Linked DNA regions of Homo sapiens. The protein of the gene in region 1 interacts with the protein of each later gene in a pairwise test. Each region holds a gene or a part of one and is shown on either strand. Other genes may lie near its edges.

Evidence for each region. Proteins that work in one complex are often made in the same cells at the same time.
Region 2: the proteins of SMAD2 (region 1) and SKIL interact in binary tests that used the Homo sapiens proteins (3 or more experiments, as listed by UniProt).

What each region holds. Positions count from the first base shown.
Region 1 is NC_000018.10:47,847,160-47,850,659, reverse strand, and holds part of SMAD2 (mothers against decapentaplegic homolog 2), read left to right. Parts: intron 1-1,972; coding exon 1,973-2,185; intron 2,186-3,500. UniProt on the Homo sapiens protein: Receptor-regulated SMAD (R-SMAD) that is an intracellular signal transducer and transcriptional modulator activated by TGF-beta (transforming growth factor) and activin type 1 receptor kinases.
Region 2 is NC_000003.12:170,364,215-170,367,714, forward strand, and holds part of SKIL (ski-like protein), read left to right. Parts: intron 1-3,500. UniProt on the Homo sapiens protein: May have regulatory role in cell division or differentiation in response to extracellular signals.

The DNA.
Region 1 (3,500 bases):
AATATATATTATACATAATATATATAATATATATATAATATATAATATATATTATACATAATATATATAATATATATATAATATATAATATATATTATACATAATATATATTATATATATAACATATATTATACATAATATATATTATATATATAACATATATTATACATAATATATAATATATAATATATATTATGTATAATATATAATATATATTATACATAATATATATAATATATTATATATATTATACATAATATATAATATATATTATATAATATATATAATATATATTATACATATTATGTATAATATATATAACATATATTATACATAATATGTATATAACATACATAATATATATTATACATAATATATATAATATATAATATATATTATACATAATATATATAATATATAATATATAATATATATTATACATATATATAATAATATATATATACTATATATAATATATATATGAGAGTGTGCACATATATGTACAAATGTGTATGTGTATGGTCCCTTCATAACCATGAGTTCAGCATCTGCAGATTCAACCAACTGCAGATTGAAAATAATCGGGAAAAAATGAAAATAACAATACGACAGTAAAAACTAATACAAATTGTATTTATTTTTATTTATTTTTTGAGACAGAGTCTTGCTCTGTCGCCCAGGCTAGAGTGCAGTGGCGCAATCTCGGCTCACTGCAACCTCTGCCTCCTGGGTTCAAGCAATTCTCTGCCTCAGCCTCCTGAGTAGCTGGGACTACAGGTGCATGCCACCACACCCAGCTAATTTTTGTATTTTTAGTAGAGATGGGGTTTCACTATGTTGCCCAGGCTGGTCTCAAACTCCTGGCCTCAAACGAATCACCCACCTTGACCTCCTAAAGTGCTGGGATTACAGGCGTGAGCCATCGTGCTGGGCCCAAATTTTAAAATACAGTATAACAAATATTTGTATAGCATTTATATTATTAGGTATTATAAGTAATCTAGAGATTATTTAAAGTATACAGGATGACGTGAATTTAAGTTACATGGAAATACTACACCCTTTTATGTCAGGGACTTGAACATCTAAGGGTTTTTAGTTAGGGGGAGCCGGTCCTAGAACCAATCCCCTGTAAATGCCAAGGGATGACTATATATATATATATATATATACATACATTTCTGTATTACTATTATTATTTTTGCCCTCATTTTACCCTATTTCACAATTTCTCTTCGGTTGTTACATGTTTGGAATTTATTCTACAAAATTGTGAGGTTTTTTTCTTTTGCAGTATTCCTTATGATATGTTTTAGTCAAACTGCAGAAGCTAAATATATAGTTTTCCAGTGAAATAAGTAGTCTTTTGACTCTATGGTCTGTTTCTACTTGCATGATCTTTGTGTGTTACTGCTTTCTGGTTCTTATGTATGAGTGGGTTTTCTCTTTTTGTAGCTAGGGTATCTCACCAAGAGTTTGATGTTAAAATAGACAAATGTCAAAAATATGTCATATTTTGTATCCTTTTATTATTACTGTTTTTCTTTGTGTGGCTTTTGACTCATTAATCTTTGCTCTGGCTTTATCTTACCCCACTTTAGCTTTTTTATGTGCTTTAGAAATGCACCAAGTATGGCAAGTTGACTGACTTTGCCTATGATTGTTTTGTATTTGAACAGGAGCTAGACTAAAACTACTGGTAAAACAAAGAATCCAACATAAAGTGATTTAATGACATGGGAGAAATTTGAAAAAATCTGGTATGATCTATGAAACTGGAGTTTTGTGTGAAAAATACTGAAAATCTGGTATCATCTGTGGAAACCGATACAGATACTATGTCTACTTCCTGAGCTTTTGCCAGTGCAGGCTGGCATAGAGCATGTAAAGATGATTATATTAAATCTATTTTTGGCTTGAATTGTTCACGCATTTCTTCCTTTTATTATTTTTTTATTTTTTTCTTTTTCAGATTTACAGCCAGTTACTTACTCAGAACCTGCATTTTGGTGTTCGATAGCATATTATGAATTAAATCAGAGGGTTGGAGAAACCTTCCATGCATCACAGCCCTCACTCACTGTAGATGGCTTTACAGACCCATCAAATTCAGAGAGGTTCTGCTTAGGTTTACTCTCCAATGTTAACCGAAATGCCACGGTAGAAATGACAAGAAGGCATATAGGTATGTTTTATTTTCCTTGTTGTGAAAAATAAATGCTGTATACTCATAATGTAGGCATTGCATGGTGTGCCACATCAAGAGCTTGTGTGCAGTAAAACCAGCTTTCTCTCTGGTGGTTTAAGTGCCGACACATTTAAGTGCACAGGCTTCACTGCTTCTAATAGATCCTGGTGATGCTTCAGCTGCAAACTCTTCAACTTTTATTTGGCACCCTTGGTACTGGAAAGTTCTTCAATAAATATGTGTTAAGATAAGTTTAATTTGCTGAGTCTCTACCAGTCATAAAATTGCCATGTTCAGATTTGGGGGTTAATACTTTTTTATAAATCATGTTTTTTTGTTTTGTTTTGTTTTTGTTTTTTTTCAGTTTCTTTATATAGCTCCCAGGTTTTTTCCCCCTTTGGTGAGTTTATATATTAAATGAAATCTGCTTGCTGTTCATCTGAAATGAGATATCTAAAACAAGAACTGCATTTAATATAGTTCAAAATATAATTCAGGGACATCTCAAAATGTGGTCTGGGGACTTCTGGTAGTCCCAGAAACCCTTTCAGCTAGTTTGTGAGGTCAAAGCTATTTTCATAGTAGTACTGAGATGCTGTTTGCCATTTCTACTCTCATACTCTCATGACTGTACAGTGGAGTATTCCAGAGCCTACATGCATATGATTTTGCAAGAGATGAAATGTAGATTTGATAATGAGACTCCAATTCTGTTACACTAGACATGAATGTTGAAATGTTGCCACTCTATTTTTTTTTTTTTTTTTTTTTGCTTTGGAAATATAGTTGTTTTTCATAGACAAAAATGGTGAAATGTTGCCACTCTATTTTTTTTTTTTTTGCTTTGGAAATACAGTTGTTTTTTATAAACATTGTTAATATGTAATGGATTTGATTTTTAAATGAATTTTTTAAATCTCAGTTTTTATATCTAATATGGTCATTTTCCATAATATTCACATAAACAAAAGCTCTTTGGGGTCCTCAGTATTTCCTTAACGATGAAGTGAAAAAGTGTGAGAACCATTCATAATTGAACATCATTCTCATCACCTTAAAGTAACTTCTTTTAACAGTAGTTTGCTTCTGTTTTTTTTCTAATTAACCATTACCTCCTGTGAGAAGTAATGCTGGTTATCAAAGTGTGATTTTGATACTGCAAAATGATAGTGACTAGAAGATCTATTACTTGGTTCCAAGTGGAAGTTCTCAAATCTTGCTTGATGTATAAATTTGGATAATCTTATTAAGATACCCAGTGTCGCTGTAGGTGCTTTAACTAAAATAGTTTTTTGTTTTTGTGACTTAATTG
Region 2 (3,500 bases), on another chromosome or scaffold:
AATGCTAGGATTACAGGCGTGAGCCACCATGCCCAGTGGTGGTCTACTCTTACATGTCTGTTGGAGGCCACATTTGCCAGATATTGTTGCTCCCGTCTTTTTTTTTTTTTTTTTTTTTTTTTTTTTGAGACAGAGTTTCGCTCTTATTGCCCAGGCTGGAGTACAATGGCGCGATCTCAGTTCACTGCAATCTCCACCTCCCAGATTCAAGTGATTCTCCTGTCTCAGCCTCCCAAGTAGCCGGGGTTACAGGTGCCCACCACCATGCCTAGCTTGTTTTTTGTATTTTTAGTAGAGATGGGATTTTACAGCCTAGCCGGCTGGTCTTAACTCCTGACCTGAGGTGATCCGACCTCCTCGTCCTCTCAATTGCTGGGATTACAGGCATGAGCCATGGCGCCTGGCCCGCCCCAGTCTAATTATTAGTCTGACATAAGTGTATTTTGGATAAACTACTTTTCCTAATATTCTTGCTCTGTGTTTATGTGAAAAACATCTGAGAACCATGATAAAGGTTTAAAAAAAAAAAGATGATGGATTAATTTACTTAACTGAAACAATGTGCTGAGGTTTGGTTAACACTGAAACCATCCTTCGTCTGGGATGTAATCCCTTTTTGTCCCAGAATTCACTGATTTGAATACATTTTCGATTTTAGGAAGGTGTGAGTTTCTTTCTGATCTTTTTGCTGTGTTATATTTTGCAGTATTTGAATTAGTGTTTGTGGTGTATTTTGATATTGCTTGTAATTTTATGTGAATTTGAGAAATTTAAAGGAATTTAAGAAAATTTCAAACACCCATACTTTAAGAAAGATTCTTTTCTTTGGTTCATATTTAATACGTACTTGAGTGGTTGTTTTATTATGCTTACCACTTCACGTTTTAAAAACGTACTCAGAACATTGTGAAGTACACTTATTTTTTAGGGTCTGTGAGGAAGGTGAATGACAATATTTCCACCTCTTAGATGAGTCACATGCTCCTGGTTGTATAACCAGAATCAGGAGTTGAATACAGGGCTTCTAACTCGAAGTTTAGTAATTTTTCACTATTTGCCCCTGAAGCACATGTTAGTAGCAGAAACTGAATTTTGAGAAACATTAACTTTTCTTATCAATTTACCTTAGTACAGGTTGAGCATCCCAAATCCAAAATCTGAAATGCTCTAAAGGCCAAAACTTTTTGAATGCTGACATGGCACTCACAGGAAATGCTCATTGGAGTATTTCAGATTTTGATTTTTGGATTTGGGATGCTCAACTGCCATATCGTGCACATATTCCAGAATCTGAAAAAATCAGAAATTCAAAATACTTTTGGTCCCAAGCATTTCTGATAAGGGATATTCAGCCTCTATGATGGTTCTCAAACTCTGTTTTAACCTGCATATAAATTTAAATACTAAGGTATTTAACTGAGAATGAGATAGTCCTTGACTGAGGAACAGTTTTTATTTTCTTCTGTGAGTCATTGAGTTGGTTGCCAAACAAGCCAAATTGACCCAGAGGGAGCTCATTTTAAAAAGTCAAACTAGGCTTTTTTTTTTTTTTTTTTTTTGAGATGGAGTTTCGCTCTTGCGCCCAGGCTGGAGTGCAATGGCGCGATCTTGGCTCACTGCAACCTCCGCCTCCTGGATTCAAGCGATTCTCCTGCCTCAGCCTCCCAAGTAGCTGCAATTACAGGCGTCTGCCACCATACCCAGCTAATTTTTTTATTTTTAGTCCAGACGGGGTTTCACCATGCTGGCCAGGCTGATCTTGAACTCCTGACCTCAGATGATCCACCTGCCTCGGCCTCCCAAAGTGCTGGGATTACAGGCATGAGCCATTGCGCCTGGCCTTTTTTTTTTTTTTTTTTAAGACTGTACTAAATATATTAACGTGTTATGTAAAGGACCTGATGTTTGGTGTGAATACTGACATGATTTGACATGCGTATATAGTTTATGTAATCAAAGTATTGCTTTTGGATTAAAAAAAGTCCTGAAACTCAGTAAGTTGTTCGAAATGAAACAACTTAATTATTTTACAATTATAAAATATGTAATATATTAATACATTTTAATGTTAATAAGTTGTAGTATCTTGTAAATTATAAATAATTTGAAATGAGACAACTTAATTAAATATAGCTAATAACTCTTTCTTACTCAAGTCGCCATAAGAAATATACTTGATTTTAGGCCAGGCGCGGTGGCTCATGCCTGTAATCCCAGCACTTTGGGAGGCTGAGTTGGGTGGATCACCTGAGGTCAGGGGTTCGGGACCAGCCTGGCCAATATGGTGAAACGCCATCTCTACTGAAAATACAAAAGTTAGCAGGGGATGGTGACACACGCCTGTAATCCCAGCTACTTGGGAGGCTGAGGCAGGCTTGAACCCAGGAGGTGGAGGTTTCAGTGAGCCGAGTTCACACTGCCCTTCATCCTGGGTGACAGAGTGAAACTCTGTCTCAAAACACACACACACACACACACACAGACACACACACACACACACATACTTGATTTTAGATCTGCCTATGTTGTTCTACAGAATGTTGTCAAGTTACTTACCTGATACGAGCTTTTTGTGTTTTTTATTGGAATAATCATTATTTTACTTTAAACTGTATAAATACATGCAAACATCACATTCCTGATTCTTTTTCACATCTTCAGTGGATATTCAGCAAAATCAGAAGTAGATCAAATATATGTAAACAAAAATAGAAAATTAAAATAAATTTGATCTAATTCTAATTTTGTTGAATATTACGTTTGTATGAAAAAAAGATCAACAGGCAAATTAATCATTTGTAAATAAAATTTGAAGAGTAATGTTTACTTAAGATTATTTTCAAACATATTGGAAGTGGTCATTTGTTGTAGGTGATTCTTCACTTTTTTTGTTTGTTTGTTTGTTTTTTTTGAGACGAGAGTCTCGCTCTGTTGACCAGGCTGGAGTGCAGTGGCGCGATGTCAGCTCACTGCAAACTCCACCTCCCAGGTTCACGCCATTCTCCTGCCTCAGCCCCCTGAGTAGCTGGGACTACAGGTACCCATCACCACGCCTGGCTAATTTTTTCTATTTTTTTAGTAGAGACGGGGTTTCACCGTGTTAGCCAGGATGGTCTCGATCTCCTGACGTCGTCATCCTCCCAAAGTGCTAGGATTACAGGCGTGAGCCACTGCGCCTGGCCGATTCTTCCCTATTGTAGCATGTGGCTGACAGTCTCCACTTTACTAAGTTAAGAACTATATATACCCTTTTTTTTTTTTTTTAAATTGAGATGGAGTTTCGCCCTTGTTGCCCAGGCTGGAGTGCAATGGCGCAATCTTGGCTCACTGCAACTTCCGCCTCCCAGGTTCAAGCAATTCTCCTGCCTCAGTGTCCCTAGTAGCTGGGATTACAGGTGCCTGCCACCACACCCAGCTAATTTTTTGTATTTTTAGTAGAGATGGGGGTTTCACTATGTTGGCCAGGCTGGTCTCGAACTCCTGATCTCAGGCAATCCACC